Regions from separate parts of the Homo sapiens genome. Here region 2 is linked to region 1. The links come from fine-mapping of genetic effects on gene expression. A gene starts in region 1. The other region holds a variant in brackets. All regions are shown on one strand. Distances are from middle to middle. Region 1 holds the start of SMARCA4 (SWI/SNF related BAF chromatin remodeling complex subunit ATPase 4). Region 2 overlaps SMARCA4 (SWI/SNF related BAF chromatin remodeling complex subunit ATPase 4).

Region 1 (8,971 bases):
CAGCCTCCGGAGTAGCTCTGATTACAGGTGCTCACCACCATGCCATGCTAATTTTTGTATTTTTAGTAGAGATGGGGTCTCGCCATGTTGCCCAGGCTGGTCTTGAACTCCTGGGCTCAAGCAATCTGCCCGTCTCAGACTCCCAAAATACCAGGATTACAGGTGTGAGCCACTGTGCCCAGGCACAAGAGGTCATTTTTGATGAATAAATGCACATTTTGTTAACTAATGAGTGATTTCATATTCCAAGGAAGATCTGGAGATATTACTGAAAAGGTGTTTAACTTGCAGTGGCAACTGAAGTCAATGTATTTTACATTTTCATGTTCTGGACTTGGGTGAGTTGTTATTTCAAGCCCTCATCTTTGAGTAAAAGAGAAGAATCCACCTGTAATCCCAGCCACTCAGGAGGCTGAGGTAGGAGAATCTCTTGAACCTGGGAGGTGGGAGGTGGAGGTTGCAGTGAGCCAAGATTGAGCCACTGCACTCCAGCCTGGGTGACAGGGCAAGACTCCGTCTCAAAAAACAAAAAAAAAAAAAAAAAAGAAGAAGGCCGGGCGCAGTGGCTCATGTCTGTAATCCCAGCACTTTGGGAGGCCAAGGTGGGCAGATAACGAGGTCAGGAGATCGAGACCATCCTGGCTAACACGGTGAAACCCCGTCTCTACTAAAAATACAAAAAATTAGCCTGGCGTGGTGGCGGGCACCTGTAGTCCCAGCTACTCAGGAGGCTGAGGCAGGAGAATGGCGTGAACCTGGGAGGCGGAGCTTGCAGTTAGCGGAAATTGCGCCAAAAAAAAAAAAAAAAAAATCCATTCTCCTCTGGGATGATTCCCCTCCCCCACTTCCCGTTCCCTCCTCTCCCCTCCCCTCCCCTGCCCTGCCCTCTCCTCCCCTTCTTTTTTTTTTTTTTTTGAGATGGAGTCTCTGTCGCCCAGGCTAGAGTGCAGTGGTGTGATCTTGGCTCACTGCAACCTTCGCCTCCTGGGTTCAAGCGATTCTCCTACCTCAGCCTCCCGAGTAGCTGGGACTACAGGTGCTTGACACCACACCTGGCTAATTTTTGTATTTTAATAGAGACGGGGTCTCTCTTTTTTTTTTTTTTTTAGAGACAGACTCTCGCTCTGTCGCCCAGGCTGGAGTGCAGTGGCGGGATCTCAGCTCACTGCAAGCTGTGCCTCCCGGGTTCACGCCATTCTCCTGCCTCAGCCTCCTGAGTAGCTGGGACTACAGGCGCCTGCCACTACGCCTGGCTAATTTTTTTGTATTTTTAGTAGAGACGGGGTTTCACTGTGTTAGCCAGGATGGTCTCGATCTCCTGACCTCGTGATCTGCCCGCCTCGGCCTCCCAAAGTGCTGGGATTACAGGTGTGAGCCACTGCGCCCAGCTGAGACGGGGTTTCACCATATTGACCAGGTCTCGAACTCCATATTGACCTTGCGATCCCAGAGAAAGTGCTGGGATTACAGGCGTGAGCCACCGTGCCTGGTTGAGACAGGGTTTCACCATATTGACCTGGTCTCGAGCTCCTGACCTTGTGATTTGCCTGCCTCGGCCTCCTAAAGTGCTGGAATTACAGGCGTGAGCCACTGCGCCCAGCCTGTAGATGTTTTTTTTTTAAAGTCTGGAAGCCAAGGGTGTCAATGCAGACATGGGGCCAAGGTCCCAGGGGCAGTTCATTATTAAGAACTGTGCTCTTAATTGAGACACCTGGCAAATTTTGTATTGCTTTGTAGAGATGGGGTTTCACAATGTTACCCAAGCTGGTCTTGAACGCCTGTCCTCAAGTGATCTGCCAGCCTGGGCCTCCCAAAGTACTGCCATTATAGGCATGCATGAGCTACCACAACCGGCCTGTTTTTCTTTTTTGAGACGGAGTTTCGCTCTTGTTGCCCAGGCTGGAGTGCAACGGCATGATCTCAGCTCACCGCAACCTCTGCCCGCTGGGTTCAAGCGATTCTCTTGCCTCAGCCTCCCAAGTAGCTGGGATTACAGGCATGCACCACCACACCCGGCTAATTTTGTATTTTTTTAGTAGAGACAGGGTTTCTCCACGTCGGTCAGGCTAGTCCTGAACTCCTGACCTCAGGTGATCCGCCTGCCTCGGCCTCCCAAGTGCTGGGATTACAGGCGTGAGGCACCGCGCCTGGCCCGGCCTGTTTTTCTTTACACTATTGCATATTAGTGTGATTAGCATAAAAGACAATTAGAGAACAGTCATACCATCCACTCCATGGGCAGCAACCCTGCCTCCTCCATGCATTGCTGCAGGGTATTCCTAGCTCAATGCTTAGCATTTGGAGAGAGCATAAGAAATACTATTTGGCCGGGCGCCTTGGCTCACGCCTGTAATCCCAGCACTTTGGGAGGCTGAGGTGGGAGGATCACCTGAGCCCAGGAGTTTGAAACCAGCCTGGACGACATAGTGTGACTGTCTCTACAAAAAATTTTAAGAAAATTAGCTGAGTGTGGTGTCCCACCCTTGTAGTCCAAGCTACTCGGGAGGCTGAGGCAGGAGGATCGCTTGAGCCCAGGAGGTCGAGGCTACAGTGAGTACTGATCGTGCCACCGCAGTCCAGGCTGGATGACCCAGCAAGCCTGTGTCTCAAAAACAAAAACAAAAAAACAAAAAAATAACTACTTGAATGAATGAGGAATCGAGTTCAGATCCCACTTCTACTTGCTCACTTACTGTGCACTATTCAATAACACTAGCTGAGGATCAGAGAGCTAGCAGGTGGGCTACCTGCTGTCATGATTCCTCATAACCAAACAGTGGAAGTGGGAGCCATTATTGTTTCTGGTGGGTTTTTTTTGTTTTGTCTTGTTTTGTTTTTGAGACGGAATCTCCCTCTGTCACCAGGCTGGAGTATAGTGGCACGCTCGACTCACTGCAACCTCCGCCTCCTGGGTTCATGCAATTCTGCCTCAGCCTCCTGAGTAGCTGGCACTACAGGCACGCGCCACCACAGCCAGCTAATTTTTGTATTTTTAGTAGAGATGGTGTTTCACCACATTGGCCAGGATGGTCTCAATCTCTTGACCTCATGATCCACCTGCCTTGGCCTCCCAAAGTGTTGGGATTACAGACGTGAGCCACTGGGCCCAGCATTTTTTTTTTTTTTTTTTTTTTTTGAGATGGAGTTTTACTCTCGTCACCCAGGCTGGAGCGCAATGACATGATCTTGGCTCACTGTAACCTCCACCTCCTGGGTTCAAGAAATTCTCCTGCCTCAGCCTGCCGAGTAGCTGTGATTACAGGCACCTGCCACTATGCCTGGCTAATTAATTTTTTTGTATTTTTAGTAGAAACGGGGTTTCACCATGTTGGCCAGGCTGGTCTCGAACTCCTTACCTCAGGTCATCTGCCCACCTTGGCTTCCGAAAGTGCTGGGATTACAGATGTCAGCCACCGCACCCAGCCTTATTGTTTGTTTCACAGGTGAAGAAAGTGAGGTGTAGATGCTCTGGTAAACCTGCCTGGTATTACCCATGCATCACCCAGGTAGTAGAAATGGAGTCGTGTTTTAAACCCAGGTCCTTCTGGGGCCTGGCTTGGTGGCTCATGCCTGTAATCCCAGTGCACTGGGAGGCTGAGCCAGGAGGACTGCTTGAGCCCAGTAGTTTGAGACCAGCTTGGGTAACACAGCAGACCTCAGCTCTACAGAACATAACAGACAAAAAAAAAAAAAAAAAAAAAAAGCTGGTGGTGGTGGCATGTACCTGTAGTCACAGCTATTTGGGAGGCTGAGGTGGATCCCTTGAGTCCAGGAGTTTGAGGCTGCACTGAGCTGTGGTTACACCATTGCACTCCAGCCTGGGTTACAGAGCAAGACCCTGTCTCTAATAAAACAAACAATTAAACAAAAACCCACCCAGGTGAGGTGGCTCACGCCTGTAATCCCAACACTTTGGGAGGCTGAGGTGGGCGGATCACTTGAGGTCAGGAGTTAAAAACCAGCCTGGCCAACATGGTGAAACTCTGTCTCAACTAAAAATACAAAAATTAGCCGGGCGTGGTGGCGGACGCCTGTAGTCCCAGTTACTCGGGAGGCTGAGGCAGGAGAATCGCTTGAATCTGGGAGGCAGAAGTTGCAGTGAGCTGAGATCGTGCCACCTCACTCCAGCCTGGGCAATGGAGTAAGACTCCGTCTCAAAACAAACAAACAAACAAACAAACAAACAAACAAACACACAAAAAAGAAAACACACAGAAGAGGCCAAGAGGCTCAGGGCCTTCACTCTCGGAGGAAGGTTTCTCTCTTTCACCACCAGCCTGTATGCATTCAAACGTGTTCTTTGCAACGACGACTTCCGTGGCTGCCCTATTTAAAATGTCCATGATCCTCCCAGTGTTCACCTCACACTGTACTATTTATTTTTTTTGAGACGGAATTTCACTCTTGTTGCCCAGGCTGGAGTGCAATAGTACGATCTCGGCTCACTACAATCTCCACCTCCTGGGCTCAAGCGATTCTCCTGCCTCAGCCTCCCGAGTAGCTGTGACTACAGGCGTGTGCCACCACGCCCGGCTAATTTTTTGTATTTTTAGTAAAGACGGGGTTTCACCGTGTTAGCCAGGATAGTCTCATCTCCTGACCTCATGATCCACCAGCCTAGGCCTCCCTAAGTGCTGGGATTACAGGCATGAGCTACCGCGCCCGGCTAATTTTTGTATTTTTAATAGAGACGGGTTTCACCATGGTGGTCAGGCTCGTTTCTAACTCCCGACCTCAGGTGATCCGGCCGCCTCGGCCTCCCAAAGTGCTGGATTACAGGCGTGAGCCACCAAGTCCGGCCTCTCATACTGCACTATTTTGCTTATTAATCTTGCTTCTTGTCCTCCTTCCCCACTAGACCGAGGGCTCCACGGCGGCTGGGACACAGTAGCAGATCAATAAATATTTGCTAAGCTAATTAATGGCACTTGGGAAGTTTTGCAGAGAAGGCGGCCACGGTCGGGCCCCGCCTTGCCTCCCCAAATAGGCCTCGCCGCCCCAGGTCAGGGATCAAAGCGGTTCCCAGGCGCGCCCTTGGCCCGCGGGAAACCACTGCCCGGTCTTGGTCCAGGCGGCCCGTCCTACGGTCCAGGGTTCCTATTTCCGAGCCTCAGGGACCTCCTTTCCCCACGGACCCCACGGCCACCGGGATCCCATTCTCCAGTTGCCCCATCGTCACCGCGGCCGCCGCCACCGCCGCCGCAGTGGCGTCCGCTCTGCGCATGCTCCGGGGCGTCAAGACGCGAGGCGTGCAGAAGGCGAAGCGTGCGCAGGCGCGGGGCCATCGCGGCCCGAGTGGGGCGGTGCATCGGACGCGCGTGCTTCCTCCGGGCCACGCCCACCCCCGTCCGCCCAGGGACGGGCGCGCACGCGCGCCGGGAGCGGAAGGGCGGGCTGGCGCGCGCACGAGGCCGGGCAGGCGGCGGAAGCTGGAGAGGCCGCCGCGGTGCTGAGGGGGAGGGGAGCCGGCGAGCGCGCGCGCAGCGGGGGCGCGGGTGGCGCGCGTGTGTGTGAAGGGGGGGCGGTGGCCGAGGCGGGCGGGCGCGCGCGCGAGGCTTCCCCTCGTTTGGCGGCGGCGGCGGCTTCTTTGTTTCGTGAAGAGAAGCGAGACGCCCATTCTGCCCCCGGCCCCGCGCGGAGGGGCGGGGGAGGCGCCGGGAAGTCGACGGCGCCGGCGGCTCCTGGTAAGGAACGCGGGCCGCGGGGGCAGCGCGGCGCGGGGCCGGGGAGGGCGGTTTGAATGGAGCCGGGGCGCCGAGGGGGGAGGGGGCTGCCGGCGCGCCCTGTGCGGGGCCGGGGTACGGCGGCGCCCGAGGGTCAAGAAGCCCAGCCGGCAGCCGCGCGCGTGGGGAAGGCCACAGTGTCGCGAGGCCGTGGCAGCGGCGGCCCCCGCGGAGCGGCGGGGTGGGTGGGGGGCCCGGGCCGCGTGGAGGCCGCGCGATCCTCTCCGCGCGCGCTCTCGCCGGGGTCGCCGGACAAAGCTCGCCCCCCTCGCCCGGCACCCCTACAGTCGCCCTCCCAATTACAGCGGCTGCAACAATAGGCAGGCGTTGGGGCTTTTCTGGCTGCGTGGTAACGGGTCCGACCCGAATGTTGCGTTTTTGGCGAAGCTGCGATCGGGGCTCAGCCAAACCTCCAGATATGTCCGGCGTCGGCCGGACACGGGCATTAGCGGTCCCCTTGGGCTAGCCGACCTCAAATTGTCTTAAAAACGTGTCATTCCAGATTTTCAAGGAAAGGTAAAGGACTCCCCCGATGCCTTGCAGTTAGTGACTTCAAAATGTTTGCCCGAATTGGGGTTGGGGATGGGGTCGGCGGCAAGTAGGGGAGCACGGAGGAAATCCTTTGCTGTGTAAAAGCATTGCTTTTCTTTTGCATCCTTTTTTCTCCTTCCCAATTGGTTTTTCAGATTAAGGCTTTTATTTTCAACGTGGACCTTTTGGGCGAGTGTTTTGTCCCGATCTTGAAGATACCAGTCTTGATTTTTTTTTTTTTTTTTTTTGGTCAGTGACTCCTTGGGGAAAGTAGCAAGGGAATAAGCGGAAAAGCCGCTTCGCAGGAATTTGAAGCAAGTTTTCAGTTTGGATTGATAGGCTGCATTCAAGCTTGATTCCTGGTGCTGTCAGTCACTTAGCACACTGTCACTTTAGGGAAGTGGCTTAACCTCTCTGAACCTCTTAGTTTTCCTCCTTTGTGAAAGCTCCTTTGTGAAAGGGGGTAATCTCCCAAATGGAATTGGTGAAAGCCTGTAAAATGGTTCCTCGCAAGCGGGAAGCACTATTGTAATTGTCTGGTCCAATCTCCCTCATTGTTCAGCAGATAACTTCTTGAGGCCCTACTAAGTGTTGGATGGTCGGGGGTTGGATCCTGGAGCCTCTGCAGTCTTGGAGGGGAGCGGGTGGTAAATGTGGGAACAAACTCTCTTGGCCTATCGTTTATTGCTCTGAACCTGCACTGTGAGAGGGACACAGCGGACAGGCAGGGGATCGGTGGTAGCCAGAGATCACGGGGGCTGCTTGGAAGAGGGGGCCTCAAAATCAGGGAGGGTGTGTAGGATTGTATTTTGTTTTTGAGGCAGAGTCTTGCCTGTCGCCCAGGCTGGAGTTCAGAGTCCCAATCTCCGCTCACTGTAACCTCCGCCTCCTGGGTTCAAGCGATTCTCCTGCCTCAGCCTCCTGAGTAGCTGGGACTACAGGCGCCCGCCACCACGCCTGGCTAATTTTTGTATTTTTAGTAGATATGGGGTTTTACCATGTTGGCCAGGCTGGTCTCAAACTCCTGACTTAAGGTGATCCACCCACCTCGGCCTCCCAAAGTGCTAGGACTACATGTGTGAGCCACTGCGCCAGGATTGTATTTTGACTTTCCCTGGCCACCTCGGACTAGCCATTGTTCCCCTCAGCTACATTCATACATCAACTTGGTCCTTTCCGGTGTAGCTGTCACCCCCAGCACCGTGAGAGCTGGGGTTGTGTCTGCCTGGCTGGCCCCACAGTACCCTGGGCCTGACACATAGTAGGTCTTTAGCGAACTTATGTGGATTGAATGAGGGGGTCCTGTGGAAGATCGCGTGACCATCTGTGTAAAAGGCTTGGTGCAGGGCCAGGTGCAGTGGCTCATACCTGAAATCCCAGCACTTGGGGAGGCTGAGGCGGGAAAATTGCTTGAACCCGGGAGTTTGAGACTAACCTGGGCAACATAGTGAGACCTCATCTCTACAAAAAATACAAAAATTAGCCGAGTGTGGTGGCATGCACCGGTGGTCCCAACTACTCAGGAGGCTGAGGTAGGAGGACTGCTTGAGCCAGAGAGGTGGAGGCTGCAGTGAGCCATTCTTGTGCCCCTGCATTCCAGCCTGTGCACCAGAGTAAGACTGTCTCAAAAAAAAAAAAAAAAAAAAAGAAAAAGAAAGCTTGGTGCAGGACTGGGGGTGGATTGTAAGGGATACAGGTTAGTTGTTTGAACAGTTTTTGCACTTTCCAAGCCATTGTTTCCTGAACCTCAGTTGTCCTCATCTCCCCTACAAAGTGTGGGGTGGTGGTTAGCGTGGGGTGGTGGTAAGGAGTACTCATTCTGGAATCAGACCTCCTGAATTCACACCCAGCTCTCTAAATCGTAGCTTAACCTCAAGCGAGGCGCTTAGCAGTAGGGCCCCCCACTTGTGAAACAGGTAGGACGAGGATGCCCGAAACTTCACAGGCTTCTTGTGAGGGTTGAATGAGGTCACATGGGAAGCCGCTAACACACTGCTGCACCTGATGCGTAGTGAACACTTGATTTTTTTTTTTTTTTTGAGACGGAGTCTCGCTCTGTCATCCGGGCTGGAGTGCAATGCCCCTGTAGTCCCAAGCTCCTTGAGAGGCTGGGGCAGGAGGTACAGGCTGCAGTGGACCATGATTGAGCCACTGCACTCCAGCCTGGGTGACGAAGCGAGACCCTGTCTAAAAAAAGGAATAAAAATTAATTCATGCATAGTTAGGAAAGTAATAAATGGTTTTGCATGGGCCACCTAAAATCATTTTGTGTCCAGCCCTTTAGGAGACGTAAATGTTGATCGTGCAGGCTTTTGAGCAGGGGAGGTGATGTCATCAGAATTGTGATATAGGGCAGTGCAGTGGTCTCTAAACTTCTTGTCAGTGAGGAGCATTCCAACATATGTGTATTTATTTACAATTTATTTGTGTACCTTTGCTTCTCCTTGGGAACCCTCAAAACACCAGGAGATAACCTTAGACCATTCCATGTTTTGGCTGTTTGTGGGAGGTGGGAGCATGGGAGGGACTAGGGTTTTGGGCAGATGTCTGGTGGAACTTTCTTTCTTTCTTTCTTTTTTTTTTGAGACGGAATCTTACTCTTGTTGCCCAGGCTGGAGTGCAATGGCACGATCTCGTCTCACTGCAACCTCTGCCTCCCGGGTTCAAGCGATTCTTCTGACTCAGCCTCCTGAGTAGCTGGGATCACAGGTGTGCAC
Region 2 (16,663 bases), 62 kb after region 1:
AACTTCAGCATAGCATTTGGTCTGGCCCTAGAGCACAGCCCCTAACTCCAACCAGGCACTCATTGGGACCACTACAGCCACGAGTCAGCAGCGGACCCCCAACTCCTGGCAGGCTGGGGAGCGGCATGCCCATGCTCCAACCCCATGGGAAAATGCCCTTCTGCCTATAAGACAGCCAGGCCCCATGGGTCACACACCCATAGGGTAGGCCTGACGTCCTGACTGTTGCAGGGAGGACTGGAGGAAAGGTGAGGACCCCAGAACCCTCCCAGGTTTACTGTGGAACTGTTTCTTTCTTCTATCTCCCTGCTTCCTACGTGGCGGGTAGAACAGACTGCTCTGAAGGAGCAGGGCGTCCTTGTGCACAGCGCTGCAGGTAGCTGCACCTCCCCTCGTGGTCAGACCCAGATTGCTACAGCGTTCCTGCTGCACCTGCCTGAGCTCTGTCCCCTGTCTGTGTCTGGAGGCTGTTCCTTCCGGCTCTGCCCACCTCCTGGCTCCCCTCTGCCCTTCTTCCCCTGGAGGCTGATGGGTGCAGTGGCAGTCGCCCTCTGCAGTTCCCGATTTTCCCTCCTTTCACTTACAGACTTCTCAGATCACCATCTCTGCTGGAACGCCGCTCTCCAGGGTGCTGTTGTTTTGCAGCCTTGGTTCTTAGTTGTTAATTTTTTGCTTTAAAAAATTTTTTTAAACTTTTCATTTTGAAATGATCTCATTTATTTTTATTTTTTTTTATTTTTTGAGGAGTCTCGCACTGTTGACCAGCCTGGAGTGCAGTGGTGCCATCTTGGTTCACTGCAACCTCTGCCTCCTGGGTTCAAGCGATTCTCCTGCCTCAGCCTCCCGAGTAGCTGGGATTAGAGGCACGCGCCACCATGTCCGGCTAACTTTTTTGCATTTTTAGTAGAGACAGGGTTTCTCCATGTTGGCTAGGCTGGTCTTGAACTCCTGACCCCATGATCTGCCCGCCTTGGCCTCCCAAAGTGCTGGGATTACAGGAGTGAGCCACTGTGCCTGGCGACCTCATTCTTAGAAAACATTGTAGAGTTAGTGTAAAGAATTGCTATGCACCCTTCACCCATCTTCCCCATTCTTTCATAACCCCAAGACAATTATGAAAACCAGGAAGATAACATGGACGTAGGACTAATAGCAAACCAGAGGCCTTATTTACCAATCTTGTCAGTTTTCTCACAAGTGGCCTTGCTCTGGTCCAGGATCCCACACTGTCACGTCTGTGTGGCATGCCTGTGGCAGTTCCTCATTTCGTCTTTGTCCTGGTCGAGCTTGACGCTGTTGAATCCTGATCGGACCTTTGGTAGACTCTCCTTCAATTTGGGTTTGTCCGATGTGATCGCGTGGAGCAACACCACGCCCTGCTTGATGTGCCTTAGCGGGGAAGGCATGAGATGTTGAGGCCTTGGTGTCTCGGGCAAGGTGCCTGCTGGGTTTCCCACTGTAAACCTAGGAGTTACACTTTCCGTTAATAACTGTCTCGTGGGAACGTACTTCGACACTTGTGAATATCTCATTTCTCTTCCTACTTTCCTCAATAATTTCAGCATCTCTTCTACTCCATTTCATGTTGCCATAAAGGAATACCTGAGACTAGGTGATAAAGAAAAGAGGTTTAGCTGGGCGCGGTGGCTCACTCCTGTAATCCCAGCACTTTGGGAGGCCGAGGCAGGCGGATCACCTGAGGTCAGGAGTTTGAGACCAGCCTGACCAACATGGTGAAACCCTGTCCCTACCAAAAATACAAAAAAAAATTAGCCAGGCATGGTGGCGCATGCCTGTAATCCCAGCCACTCAGGAGGCTGAGACAGGAGAATCACTTGAACCTGGGAGACGGGGGTTGCAGTGAGCCAATATCGTGCCATTGCATTCCAGCCTGGGCAACAAGAATGAAACGCCTTCTCAAAAAAAAAAAGAGGTTTATTTGGCTCATGATTCTGCTGGCTGGAAGACTGGGCACCTGGTGAGGGCTTCAGGCGGATTCCACTCCTGGTGGAAGGCAAAGGGGAGCCAGTGTGTAGAGATCCCATGGGGAGGGAGGAGGCGAGGGAGGCGGGGGTGCCGGGCTCCTTTTAACCATAGCTCCCACGAGAGTTCAGAGAGCAGGAACTCATTCATCCCCCATCCCCAGTACAGTACAGGCCGTTCACGAGGGTTCACGAGGCCGTTCACGAGGGAGGCCCCCATGACACAGATGCCTCCCACCAGGCCCCACCTCCAACATTGGAAATCAGACTTCAGCATGAGGTTTGGAGGTGCCAGATACCCAAACTATAGCAGCAAACGTCAGATAAGTCTTGCCTGAAAAAATAATTACATGAGAGTTGCCAAATACATGGTTACCTGTTTCTGTCCGCTCTTCTCTACAAATTAATTGGAATTCCACCGTTAGGAAGAGCTTTCCCGTCTCCCCCATGTGCTTGTTTGGGTAATTATTATATCAGTGTGGGCGTGAACAAATATTATTTATTTTGTTGCTTCAGTTTTTTTCAGATTTGGCCTGGGAGAATTCTCCCTGGAAGAATTGTGTCTTCTCTATGTATTCAGTCATTTGTTAATATGAGTATGGACCCACGGATATTTATTTAGTACTCCAGGCTACGCACCAGTGGCTGGGTTTTTTTTGTTTTGTGGCTCAAATCCATCCAGCTTTGGCCACTGGGAGTGCTTTCAGTTGGCTCTTCTGTCCTTTGACACGCCCCCAGCATCGGGTGAATTTTGAGGACTTTCTTGCTTTTTGGCACCAAGAGATGCTGCAGGCTCATGTAGTCTATTTCCCGCCCACTCCCTCAAATCAGCCATTTCTCCAAGGAGCCCTGGTTTCCCTTCTTACAGAATGGTTTTGGGAACCAAGACCTGGGTCCTGGATGGGCCTGTTGCTTCTGGGGTGTCATTGCTCCTGGGGCCCTCTCAGTGGTCAGTGCTAGGAGATTCATGTGCGCGTGCTGATGCTTTGTGCACGTATCGTCTAAAAGGCCTTCTCTGCCTCGGCATCTGTTTCTGTGTTAAGCTGAACGTGAGTTCATACCACTGTCTGCGGCTCTGAGTGAGGACCACAGGTTCCTTCTCACACTTCCACCCTGTGTGTGCGCCCATTCTCAGCTTCCGTGGACAACAGTTTCAGAGTAGTGAGCCGGTACCTCCGGGAAGCATCTTGAGCCACTAGAGCGCAGGCCTTGGGGCCAGTTCCTTGTGTGTTCAGACCTCCAGATTGCAGTCAGATTCCATTTCCAGGGTGATAGAGGTCACCTTCTTCCCCTACTTCAGTGAGGTTGTGAGGTGGGTGCTCCTGCAGTCTTTCCCACTGCGCCCCACCTGGGCAAGCGTCCATGCTGTGGAACGCCAGCTCCTGCAGGCCAGAAGAGGGCCCGCGCGCTAGGAAATGTTTACGGCGTATGGGCATCCGGCTGTGCCGGCCCTCTCACTGGGAATTGCTGCCTCCTGCCATGAGCTGCTTGTCCTGCCTCCGTTTGGACCTCTGTCTCTGGGACCTGTCCCCTCAGTCCCCTCCTGACCCTTGCTCCTGGCTCTTCTCCCTCCCAGTGCAGATGCTCCGCACACCTCCGGCTTCTCCCTTGGTGCGCTGACTGTCCCCATCACTCCAGGGAGGTTTCACTGTTCCTGAGTCAGCGGAAGCACAGGGTCAGGCCCTACGGGCCAGGTCCGGTGGCTCCAAGATGCCATCAGGGACCCAGCCTCCCCCAGGTTTCTGCCCAGTCATTCTTGGGTGACTCCAACCCTCAGGCTCCTTACCTCATGGTTGCAGGACGGCTGCACTGCCTCCCTCGCCTCATGCAGGAGAGTGGGCAGGAAAGAGTTCTAGGAGAGTGGGCAGGGCAAAAGGCAGCAGAAGCGCAAGGCTGCTGAGCCTCTGCTCCCCACGCTTCTTCAGGAACTCTCCCCAGCCTTCACCACAGCCATGCGTCCTTCTGTCTATTGGCTGTGCCGCCTGGTTGGCTGTGGCTTCCAGCGGGGCTGGAGATGGGTTCATGGTGGACACAGCACCTCCCTCGTGGAGCTGCTTGGGGGCAAACCACGAGTAGTCCCTGGGACTCCAGCTTCGAGCCCTGTCTTTACGGACCACCCCGTCTAGACTTTCTGAGTGGCTTCCCTCCCCCACTGAAAACTCCCTGCCCCAGAGTTCCTCCCAGAGCCCGTCCCCTTTGGGACTCAGCTTTATTACCGCCTCCACCCTCTCCTCAGTCTCTAGGCTGTCGGTCTCAGGTGACTCACCCCTCCCCACTGCATTCTGCCTGCCCCCATGTCCTCCCTCATTCCAGCCCTGGTCATCCCACAGGGGAACAGCCACGAGTTGCCGCTCCCTCCCATCCCTGTCCTCCCGCCTGCCACCTGAGCCAGGCCCCGCCTCGCCCCTCACTGTCCTCGTTCTCTCTCACAGTCAGGAACCTTCCGTGGCTGGAGGGTGGCAGAAAGACTGTTTGGTGTCTCCTATATCCTCAGGTCTCCACAGCACTGTTGCTAGCCTGGCTCTGGGCGTGAAGCCTGTGCTCTGAAGCTGCATTTTCCCGGCAGCAGGTCCAGGCTTCCCCAGCCCTGGCAGCATTGTTTCTGTCCCCCATCACATCTCTGTGTCCCTACTTCTCACTCTAAAGGGCCTTGCCCTCTTTTCCCAGTGGCCTCCCTTCTGTCCTCTGAGGCAGAGCCCTTCACGTCCTCGCCAGTCTCTCTTCCTCCCTCCCTCCCTCAGCTGCCCTAAACACAGTTTCTCTGCCCACTCGGAGGGCTGTGGCCATGTTGGCCTCGCCCCTGACAGCCAGTGGCTATGGGTTTGCACAGTGAGCCATTGATGAGAGACCGGCACTTGACTCTCATTTCCTTGTTCCATCAGAACGCTGTCCAACTGGGCGTACGAGTTTGACAAGTGGGCCCCCTCCGTGGTGAAGGTGTCTTACAAGGTAGGTCACAGCCACTGAGGTTTCCTCTCTTGCTACGGAGGTGCAGGCGGTGGTGGGCAGGACGTCCACACATACCTCTGGACAGTGAACCTGAGAATGCTGGGTCTCCAGTCGCATGGAGTCTCCAGGACAGCCTGGAACTCCAGTCACATGGATCCGGGAGTTTGGACTGGGCAGGGACAGGGCAGATTAGCTCACTGGGGAGGAGACAGGAGTGAGCATGGTGGCCAGCACTCAGAGGCCAGCTCAGGCGCCTGAGATGGGGACCCAGGAAGAGGGGAGCCTGTCAGCCACCAGGAATGTGCAGATGGCGGTGCAGGCTGCGTGGTTCCCTCAGGCCCCGGCCGCCGCTGGCCTGCACTGCTTCCTCTTCCCCCTGCAGCGCGTGTTCTGCGTGGTGAGGTCTGGGGACGCGCCAGCGGCCCTGCCAGCCCCTTTCCCCACTACCCCTGTGAGGACGAGCCCTCCCGCCGTGTCACTGGGCAGTTGCAGGGGGTGCCTGTGCCCCTCTTGCCACCTGGCCACCCGGCTCCAAAAGCCGAGCTGTGCATCCTGCTTCCCTTGCAGGGATCCCCAGCAGCAAGACGGGCCTTTGTCCCCCAGCTCCGGAGTGGGAAGTTCAACGTCTTGCTGACGACGTACGAGTACATCATCAAAGACAAGCACATCCTCGCCAAGGTAACGTGTCCCTGTGGGAAATGCCAGGCCATGGGCCGAGTGCTCACACGTGGGTCACGCTGCCCGTCTCCTCCAAAGCCCCTACAAGTTTCTTCCCGGAGTCCCACCTGCATGTGCGTGAAGACAGCTGCCCTGTGTAGGGGAAAGGCCTAGGTGGGGGCGACCTCAGGTTTACCTCCCTAACTGTCTCCAGGCAGGCCCTGAGTCAGGCCCAGAAGCTGGGGCCATCTACACAGCATGCGCTCTGCCTCCTCTCGGGCCTTCTGCCCAGAGAGCCTCAGCACCAAGGCGTCTCCTGACCCGCCTACAGAGTCCCCATGGGGCCTTGGCCAGACCAGTCTTGTCCTCCTGTCTCATTGCCTTGGCCGTCCCTCCCTGGGGCCCTGGCTTCTCACCACAGGCCATGGGCTGAGATTCAGCATGTGGGGGAGAGCTCGAGGGCCAAATACCATGACTGCCTGCTGGCCTTGGGCAGCTGGTTCGGGCTGTTCTGTGAGGGTCCTACTGTCCTGGAAGCCTCTTCTGGGACGAAACTGTGAAGGGAGTCCCAGCGTGGCCATGACTGAGAATACGGCCCAGATAGAAAACAGACATAGCCCTCTGCCTCCAAAAACTCATGTTCCTCATTTGAGGAGGGGTAAAGATGTACCTGGTCTCACCCCTAAACATCCAGCTGAGTGAGTGTTGAACAGTAGAGAGTTTTTTGCGTTTTGGTTTTTTTTTTTTTGAGACCGAGTCTCGCTCTGTTGCCCATGCTGGAGTGCAGTGATGTGATCACAGCTCACTGCAGGCCTGACCTCCTGGCCTCAAGCGATCCTCCCACCTCACCCTCCTGAGTAGCTGGGACTACAGGTGTGCGCCACCACTCCCAGCTAACTTTTTTAAATTTATTTTTTATGGAGATGGGGTCTTGCTGTACTGCCCAGGCTGGTCTCAAACTCCTGGCCTCAAGGAATCCTCTCGCCTTGGCCTCACAAAGCACTGGGCAACTGTGTCTGGCCTAACAGTAGAGTTCTTGACCCAGGTATGGGGGGATGGAGGAGCTGTTTATGGGTGGCTCCGCCTCTCAGTGCATGGCTGGAGTGACAGTACTGGAATACTGGGGCTGTGAACTGGGTGTTTTCTTTTCTTTTTCTCTTCTTTTTTTTTTTTATTGAGACAGAGTCTCACAGCTGTCACCCAGGCTGGAGTGCAGTGGAGCGATCTCAGCTCACTGCAACAACCTCTGCCTCCTGGGTTCAAGTGATTCTCCTGCCTCAGCCTTCCGAGGACTGGGTGCTTTATCCCGGAGCCAACAAGGGAGGAAACTGAGGCCCAGGGAGCTGGGTATCCCACGTGCAGGCTCTTACCTCAGGTCCATGCTTCAGGTGCCTCCTTTGTGGCTCACCCCTGCTGACTCCTTACAAAGCCAGGCCGTTGGCAGGCACAGGAACCAGGCTCTGAAACCCCGTGCTCCCCTGCCAGTGGCTCAGTTGATGTAATCACCCTGCAGTGGGAGTGCTCTTTGAGTGCGGCCACTGCGCCCCCTCCCGACCCGCATGGCCCTGTATGTAGTGGCGCTGGCCCCTACCCCATGGGGCCCACATTCTGAACCACAGGCTGCTCATTAGAAATGTACCGTCACCAACCCAGTTCCCCTGAGACCCTCCACACCAGCAGGACAAGTCCCCCAGTCAGCAAGATGTGTCTTCTGCCAGAACGT[G/A]CTCGGCATTTTTCTGTGCTGTAGATTCATATGTGTGATTTTGCAGGGAAGCCAGATTGCTTTTTTGCAATTTGCATTGTTCACCTGCCAATAGTCATGGGGTCACGGGCCTGTCTCTGCCCAAGGCTTGCAAGAGGCTACGTTGTGTGGCTCCAACTCGGTGAGTCAGCCCCGGGGCAGGACGTCAGGCCTGTGCTCTCCACCCAGCTGCGCTCTTCCACCTGGAGCCTTCCTGGCTGCTGGGCGCAGAGTGGGAGATTCTCCCCATGTGCCGGGCCACCTGCTGCCCCCTGCCCTGATTGCCCACTCTGGGGCCCGCAGATCCGTTGGAAGTACATGATTGTGGACGAAGGTCACCGCATGAAGAACCACCACTGCAAGCTGACGCAGGTGCTCAACACGCACTATGTGGCACCCCGCCGCCTGCTGCTGACGGGCACACCGCTGCAGAACAAGCTTCCCGAGCTCTGGGCGCTGCTCAACTTCCTGCTGCCCACCATCTTCAAGAGCTGCAGCACCTTCGAGCAGTGGTTTAACGCACCCTTTGCCATGACCGGGGAAAAGGTGGGTTTGCCCAGCTGTGCCCATGCTGACGGTTCCAGGTGCGGCTGGCTTTGCTGGTTGGAACGTGTTGAGCACCAGCTACAGCTGGCTGGGCCTGTGCTGGGTGCCTGGTGAGAGTCTGCATCTGCATGGAGCAGGGGAGCCCTGGAACCCAAGGCTGGGGCAGCCACAAGGGCCCCAGGGGAGCAGGGCAGAGGTCATGGTGGTGAATCTCGGAATGCTCGGGGCGTCTCTGACCCTATGCTCCAGGTGCAGAGTGGATGGTGAGGAAGATGGCCCTGAGGCAGCTGTGGGACCGCAAGCGTGTGGAGAGCACAGCTAGAGGCTGTAGCGTGCTGTAGGCCCCTTTAGGTGCCCTCAGAACTCACCCTCAGGGCAGTGGGAAGGAAACTTGGAAGATTCCAGTTAGCGGGGCCACATGGTCAGGTTCTGTCTTACGTTGTTTTCAAAAAGCTCAGTGGCCAGTGTGTCTCAATGTCTGGGTGGCACCATCAGCCAGACTGTGGCATGGCAGCATCATCATTGATGAGTGGTCCCACACCAGCACTGATCCCTGAGCCTAGAGCTCCTTGCTGTTGGAGGTTGAAACTGTGGGACAGACTGTGTTTCCTGCTGAGGGGTTTAAGTAACCAGATGCTGAAGTGTGGGCAGAACTACAGAGGTTACCTCGAAGTGCCCTGCCCAGCACGGCTGGGCCCACCCCCTTCTTCCCACCTTAGACAGGTCCAGGGCAGCTGGGGCCTTCCTGGCCTCATGCGTGAGTTCCCTGCCCTCTCGGCTGCTGGTCAAGGCAGAGACTCTTCTGATGGCGAAACCGAGGCATTCCCCAAAGCCTCGTGATAAAGGAGTCCCCAATTTTTAGACTCCCGGGACCCCCACACTAAGGGCCAGGATCTGATGCTATAGTTTTGTCACTTTCTGAGCCGAGCAAAAGCTCTGCCAAAGGATTGCCAGGGAAGCAATAGAAGAAAAGTTTTGGCGTCGTCTCATTTTCCTTTAACTTTTTTAATTAAAACATTTTAAAAGTTAATTATTAGTAGAGGAGTAGGCGCCGTGGGAGGTCAGGGTTTCTTTCACCTGGTTCCACCCAGGCTGAATGAGAGTCCCTTGGGGCTCCCGGTGGCAGAGCCCTCCCTGAGAATCACCCGCTATAAGCCCCATGTGGTCAGCCTGGCCCCTGCAGCGCTCCTGGCATGAGCTTGGCGTGGGGTGGGTCTGTGGACACTCCAGTTTGTGTTACTCGTGGAGAAGCAGCATGCCCGCTGCCGGGGGTCTTTCTGGTGAGGCACAGGGAGCAGAGTGCTCTGGGTACTGCGGTTCCATGTCCCAGGAATTACATGGAGGGAACCAGATCCTCACAGTTTCCTAAGGAAGAGGGTGCCCTGCCTGGCTCCCAGAAAGCATAAAGCAGGCTGAAAAGCCACGTGCCAAGGGCAAGATCACCCCAGGGGACCCCGTCCACCCTGTCCCCACATCCGCACCTTCTAGTGAGACCTCTGTCGCCCTCCTTTGGAGGTAACGCTTGCTTCTCCTGTCTTGGGGGCTTCCAGGTGGACCTGAATGAGGAGGAAACCATTCTCATCATCCGGCGTCTCCACAAAGTGCTGCGGCCCTTCTTGCTCCGACGACTCAAGAAGGAAGTCGAGGCCCAGTTGCCCGAAAAGGTGATGGAGTTTTGAGGGGAGCCACCAGTGAAGCAGCCTCACGTGGGGGCTTTCTCCAGGGCTGGGCGTGCTCAGGGCCTCTCCCCACAGTCCCAGGCCTGCCCTGGTCAATCCAGCTTGGGGGTGGCGATGACGCCACTGGGTCTGTAAAGCCCTGTGCTGCTGTTGTAGGGATTGAAAAGCACTCATAGGCTCACATAGCTCACAATAGGTTAGAGCACAAAATCCCACTTCCTGTCAGGGGGCCAGGTGCCTGTGCGGGCTCTCCTGGCCACATCAGGAGGGGCCGTGGGCTTGGGGTTGCCCCCCGGCCCCCCATCATGGCTCTGGGTTTTCAAGGCCTGCTGCAGCCACACCCCTGGGCCCAGTTCCCACAGCAAGACCCATGGACTCGGGGTCCCCGGCTGCAGTTGTCCCTCTTGGCTCTTTGTTTCCTGGCTGGCTGTAGAGAGGCCCCCAGAAGATGGCTGGGGGGCCCTTTCTGGCCCAGTAACCCTCTGGTATCTCTGCCTGGTGCTTCCTCTCATTGCCCAGGTCTCCCCTCTTCTCCCCAGCTGTGAGGGTCTCCTCACCCACACCCCAGTGTGCTCTGGTCAGAGCTCATATGACAGGGCCGAGGGGGTCAGAGCTGGGTTCGGATGGGGGGAGTCAGGCCTCAAGCCACCTTGGGCCCTCGTGAGCATTATGTGTCCCCTGCAGGTGGAGTACGTCATCAAGTGCGACATGTCTGCGCTGCAGCGAGTGCTCTACCGCCACATGCAGGCCAAGGGCGTGCTGCTGACTGATGGCTCCGAGAAGGACAAGAAGGTGGGCCCCAGAGTCCCCCAACTGCATTCCCCACTGGGTGTCCAAGGCCGGCAGCGTGGCAGGCAGAGCAGAGCGTGCTCTGACCATCGGGTCATGATCTGGTCATGATCCCCAGGGCATCTGGCCAGCCCTGGTTATGATGGCTGGTGGCTTGTGTCAGGACACACTGACTCAGCTGCCAGTGGCTTCTCCTTTGCCTATGAAACACTGGCTCCTTCTGCAATTGGCAGCCTGGGCCCAGCACTAACCCCAGCAGGGTTAGAGTGTTCTAGAATGCCCCCCTTCTCTGTTATTAAGTGAAAGGAAGGGAGCGGGCTGTCTCCTGCAGGGGCTGCTCTGAGAATCCCAGGCCCCAGGCCCCACCTGCCTGGCTCTCCTCACCAGCAGTGAAATTATCCTCCCAGGAAATGCACCAGACCCCTTGATTCTGCCCCCAAGGCCTTGACCTCGGCCTGGCTTCCCCGAGACGTTGTGTCTGTGCCCCTTCTCCCCTGAGCTGAGCAGCAGTGTGTTCCCTAGTCCATTCCCAGCCCAGAGCATGCACCCCCCGCCCCGCCCCCACCTCCTTCCTCATCCTGGAGCCCAGGGAGCCCTGAGTCATGGCTCACCCGGCTGAGGCCCTCTTGCCCAGCTGAGACCCTCTAGGGACCCCCACAGTAACAGTGCCCAGAACAAAGCTGGCATCACAAAGCATCGGGGACTCTGCCTCAGCCCTTTGCCAGTCTTGTTTCCGTCCCGTCCTGCTGGCCCTGTCCCTGCCATCTGCCCTCTGCTGTGCCAGGCAGTCATTTGTTTCCCAGGGCTTGTTGGGGGCCTCCGGGCCTCCAGCCTGCCATCTCCTCACTCCCAATTGCTGTGCCAAAAGCCACTCTTCCCCACTAGAGCGTCCCCATGGCCCTTCTCCCAACACCCACCCATCCACCAAGCCCACCCCACCCCAGGAGGGCAAGACCCCATTTGGGTCCCTCTCATCTGCCTTCCAGGGCAAAGGCGGCACCAAGACCCTGATGAACACCATCATGCAGCTGCGGAAGATCTGCAACCACCCCTACATGTTCCAGCACATCGAGGTGAGCCCGCCGCGGCTGGGACGGCTCAGGCCCTGCTGTCTGCTGAGCTCCTAGGCAGAGCTGGCTTCTCCTCGACAGCTCTTTAAAAACAGACTCGAATATTTTCATTAGGTAATGCCTGTACATCTGTCTCTCATTTGGTCTTCGCTTCACCAGTGCTTACGGGAAGAATCCCAGCAGTTAGGGCGCAACGTGCGATAGGAATATAGGGCCCTGAAAGCTTGCCCTCAGAGAGCAGGAGCGTTTGGAGACTTCTCTGGGGATGTGTCCCCCCACAGTGGGGTCCTGCTGCGTCTCTTTGGCTCACTGGCTTTTCTCACGTTGCGGGGCGTCAAGAGTCACCACCGTCTTCAGTGAAGTGTGGGGGAGTCAGAACCCTTTTTGGTCATGGTGGCTTTGAGAATCTGGGTTCTTAGAAGCATGCATATGTTCGTGTTTCTTGGTGTAAAGTGTCAGGGTCGTTGGAGACCGCCTGCTGCCCCGAGAGCCCCTGGGGCTGTCTCAGCACCCTGAGCGTGGCTGTGGCCCCATGACGTCCTCGTGCATTCAGGGTGTGAAGAGTGCTGTATGGGATGTCCTTTCCTTCGTTGGAGGAGTGTGAGGGAAAGGATGTCAGTGGACTAAGAAAGATGGTTTTGGCATCTGTGTCTGGTCTCAGAGCCGCCGTGGGCCCGTGCCGAGCACACAGTGTGGGGGCTTTGTCCTCTGAGCACGAGCGGTGTGTGCGGACCGCAGCGGGGCCCGGTGGCCTGCTCCTGCCTGTCACTGACCCCTCTCTCCTTGCCTTGCAGGAGTCCTTTTCCGAGCACTTGGGGTTCACTGGCGGCATTGTCCAAGGGTGAGAAGCTTCCCAACTGGATGGGGTGGGCAGGTGGTCCACCCAGAGGTTTTCTGTCGTTTTGTTGGCTTTATTGCTGCTGTTATGTTGTCCAATTTCAAAGGCAGAAAATTAGAAAATACAGAAGAATCCAAAGCAAATAATACAAATCTTTTTTTTTTTTTTTTTTTGAGGTGGAGTTTTGCTCTTGTTGCCCAGGCTGGAGTGCAGTGACACAATCTCGGCTCACTGCAACCTCTGCCTCCTGGGTTCAAATGATTCTCCTGCCTCAGCCTCCCGAGTAGCTGGGATTACCGGCACCTGCCACCACCCAGCTAATTTTTTGTATTTTTAGTAGAGATGGGGTTTCACCATGTTGACCAGGCTGATCTTGAACTCCTGACCTCAAGTGATCCACCCGCCTTGGCCTCCCAAAGTGCTGGAATTACAGGTGTGAGCCACCGCGCCCGGCCCCATTATACAAATCTTTAGTGCTTGGAGAGCTGACCACTATTAACCCCAAGAGACAGGATTCCTGAGGCAGACCTGGCTTACAGATCCCACTCTGCCGCCTCCAAGCTCTGTGACTCTAGACAGCTTTCTTAACCTCTCTGAGCCTAAACTCTGCTCACTAGTACAGAGGCACTCTTTACATCATGTGGGTGTTTTCTATAGCACCCTTTGTAAGGGGCAGCCCAGACTCCTTTAAGCCCCTAATGGATGTGGATGCTGTGTCTAGATTTTCACCATTGCAAAGAACCTTGCTAAAAGCATTCTTCCAGCTAAAGCCTCCATTCAATTCCCCTGGGGTAGTAAGCCATTTGCAAGAAGAGAGGCGCCTAATGAAAACATCACAAATTCTTTTTGATGTGTTTTTTTATACTGAGTTGTGGAACAGGGTCCTGTACACCTGGCTTCAAGGCTGGGAGGCCTGGCTTGGACATGTGGTCAGCCATATCACGTCGTCCCCCTGCCAGCCTCAGTGTCCACATCTACAACACTTGGGGTTTGGCTGGAGAGAACATGAGAAGCCGAGGTGGCCCTTCCTTCTGGGTCTAGCAGAGCATGGGTGTCTCCAGTGTGGCATTTGCTCCTGGGGCTTCTTTATCGGGCAAGGGGACAAGGTCTGGCTTCCCGGAGCATCCCTGTTCCAGCCCCGTGTTGTGCCGGCCATGTGACTCACAGCTCCTCTCATTTTCATGAGTGTCTGGGTTTGACGAGAAATACATGTGCCACCCTGGTGATACGCCTCCCCAGCGAGGGTGGCCGGGCTTATTTCAGTTGGGGGAAATGGCTTTGCTGAAGCTTTGGGTGGGTGACGTCTGCTTAGGATGCATGTCTGTGCCCTTGAACCCGGCGCCTGGCCTGGAGGCGGGCGATGCACCTCCTGCCTTACCTGCCTGCAGGGTTCCAGGTTTAACATCCTGCGCCTTCTCTCCTGCCTCCTCCACACTCCAGGCTGGACCTGTACCGAGCCTCGGGTAAATTTGAGCTTCTTGATAGAATTCTTCCCAAACTCCGAGCAACCAACCACAAAGTGCTGCTGTTCTGCCAAATGACCTCCCTCATGACCATCATGGAAGATTACTTTGCGTATCGCGGCTTTAAATACCTCAGGCTTGATGGTGAGTATGAGCCAGTGAGGCGTTTCTTACAGGGTTTTGTTGTTGTGGCTGCCACAGAAGCTCCTCACTGGCATTCCCTCCTGTGAGGCAGGGTGAGGCCCAGGCGCTCTGGGTCCAGTGGCCAGAGTGGGCCTAGCCACAGGCTGAGCATCTTGGGCACTCGGCACTGGGACAGGCCGTGGATTGGACGCCGGGTGTCCTGACTCCTAGGCTGACAGTCTTTCCACGACAATGCTGGGCGCACTGGGGAAGGGGTGCCCTGTGCACTTTTAGCTGGAAGTGACAGAATTCCATACCATGTGGACACAGGAAAGAAAGCACCAATAGGCTTACATAGCTCTAACCCCAGGAGGTTAAACATCCTTCAGGCACAGCTGGATCCAGGCATGCAGGTGATATTGGAGAGACTTTTCTCCAGCTCTTTGCTCTGCCTTCTTCCATCTTGGCTTCCTTTCCACCTGCTCAGTGTCCCCAACAAAGGCAGGTCCCAGGCTGGCTCTCATTTAGCTGCTGTGAGCCGCATGCCCATCCCTGGGCCATTCGTAGCAGCCCAGTGACTGCCACCTTGCCACAGGTCAGGCCTGGACCTGGAATCAGACTCTGTGGTGAGCACGGAGGGAGGGAAGCAAGCACTGCCAGGCAGGAGCAGCAGCTGCCGTAGAGAGGCTCTCAGCCCAACCCCCTGCCCTGCGGTCCCTGATGGGAAAGGTCACCGCCTGTGTTTCTGCGCCTGCCTGCCCCAGCACACGGGAGCTCAGGGAGGAGAGGCTGTGAGATGCCGACAGGGCACGTGAGACATGTCTGTCAGTCCCAGTGGGTCAGGGAGCCCTGGAGTGAGTTCTTCGTGGGAGTTACTAGAACTGGGCTTACGAGAAACACGAGCATGAGCTGCTGAGACAGACACGGCTCAGCCAGTTTGTTGTTCCCTACACGACCTCCCAGAGCCTTTGTTGAAGCTCCTGTGCAAGGTCTGTCTCACAGCAGGACACCCCAGACCTCCATACCCCTTGTCCCGTTGATCACTTGGACCTGTGTTTGCTGGGCCAACCTGCCCAGGTGCCACCCGGAGTGTGCCCTGTGTGTCCCTCCAAACTGCAGGTCCTCCCCGGGGTTCTGTCCAGGACCACTCTACAGACACGAGTCTGTTGCAGGGGTCTCCCCGGCTTGCCTTCTTCCTTGGGGGCTTCCCACTTTCAGCTTTGAGGCTGAAAACCAAAATCCTTCAGGGTCCTCATGGCCGGGCCACCCCCCACCCTTTCCTCTCCTACGGTCTCTCCAGCGGCTTCTCCCGTCCTCGAGAGGGCCAAGGCTTCCTGAGGGCCATCCCGTCTGTGTCGTGTCCCTGACTCCCCCAGGAGAGAGCCTGGTTCCCACCCATCCCAGTGCCCTTCTGCCTACTCCATAAGGACAAGGACTTTGGTCAGTTGAACTACAGATGTGTCCTCTGCATGTGATGTGGTCATGGCCACAGGGCCAGAGAATCCATTGCGAGTAGAGGAAGGGTAGGAGCTCAGTGAAGTCTCCTGAGACTGCATCTCCCATGGGTGGGCTGGCATCTGGGAGCCGGGTGGCCCCTCACCTCAGCCCCTCCTCCGAGCTGGAGTAGCAGGGGCACATCTGGTGCCTGAGAGAGGGTGGGACGGCAGGTGGATGGCCAGGCTACTGTGGGCTTCTGCACCGTGCCTGGGCATGTGTAGGCTGGTGGCAGGAAATGGCCAGTTTTTATTTCTTCTTTTTTTTGAGACGGAGTTTCACTCTTGTTGCCCAGGCTGGAGTGCAGTGGCATGATCTCAGCTCACTGCAACCTCCGCCGCCTGGATTCAAGCGATTCTCCTGCCTCATCCTCCCTGGTATCTGGGATTACAGGCGCCCGCCACTACGCCCAGCTAATTTTCTTGTATTTTTAGTAGAGACGGGGTTTCACCATGTTGGCCAGGCTGGTCTCGAACTCCTGTCCTCAGGCGATCCACCCACCTCAGCCTCCCAAAGTGTTGGGATTACAGGCATGAGTCACCGCGCCCGGCCTGCCAGTTTTTATTTCATCACCAAAATGACTTCAGTGTTCAGGGGCACCTCTGTCCGAACTCCCAGCAGCGCAGGGAGTGTTGACATTGCCTTAATGCCCACAACGCTGAGGGCATCGTGGGTTGTCACCCAGGAGACCTGCTCTGGCTCCTTGACTTGGGTTTTCTGGGGCATGGGGACACTGATCCTGCCAGAAAGGACACGAGCCCCCTTTATAAGGTCTCCATGCTTTTACCGTAGAAGATTCTCTTTGTGAACCACAAAACTTTTTGAGACAGGGCTGAAGGCAGGTGCACCCACAGTCACTGTCCACCCACCCCCAGGTCCCTTGTGTTGCGAGCGGCGGTGTTGCCGGCATTGGCCGCTGTGTCTTCCGCTCCCCATGGAATGGCACAGGGTAGAGTAGAGGAGAGAATCCAGGGCTGTGGTGGTGGTGGCTGTGCTGACGCTGGACGCTGTGGCCTAGCTGTGGGCTGGGTGCTGGACTCTGTGCTCCAGGCCCACCTCCTCTAGTTCTCCCAGCGGGGCCTGTTTTCATTTCTGGGATGTGTGGAGAGACGTTTTGTGGTGAAACACTGGAAATCCAGTTATTCGCCAGTGGCCCACAGGCCCGTGTGGAGAGTGCGGAGCCAGGGATCTGGGGATGCTGGCAGGTGCTGATCCTGCTCCTGCTCTCAGAAGCAGGTGTTCCTTGGTGTCCCCACTCTACCCCTGAGGTCACCCCGCTGACCCTGTTCTCCTCTGTGCCCGTCAGGAACCACGAAGGCGGAGGACCGGGGC

The links. PIP is the estimated chance that this variant, and not a neighbour inherited with it, causes the effect.
Region 2: its variant is fine-mapped to the expression of SMARCA4 in whole blood (INTERVAL, PIP above 0.99).

Annotation. Positions count from the first base shown.
Region 1 is chr19:10,955,491-10,964,461 of GRCh38, forward strand. It overlaps SMARCA4 (SWI/SNF related BAF chromatin remodeling complex subunit ATPase 4), which reads left to right and starts at 5,540. Exons shown (of 35, transcript NM_003072.5): 1 at 5,540-5,684. RefSeq lists silencers at 5,268-5,687, 5,738-5,797, 5,848-5,907 and an enhancer at 8,425-8,554.
Region 2 is chr19:11,014,093-11,030,755 of GRCh38, forward strand. It overlaps SMARCA4 (SWI/SNF related BAF chromatin remodeling complex subunit ATPase 4), which reads left to right. Exons shown (of 35, transcript NM_003072.5): 17 at 4,865-4,931; 18 at 5,499-5,609; 19 at 7,633-7,875; 20 at 9,426-9,539; 21 at 10,239-10,346; 22 at 11,330-11,416; 23 at 12,208-12,254; 24 at 13,692-13,858; 25 at 16,638-16,663. Among named protein-coding and RNA genes, the nearest start is that of SMARCA4, 61 kb to the left of the region's middle. RefSeq lists an enhancer at 14,052-14,552. The variant G/A (reference allele first, on the strand shown) is at 7,312.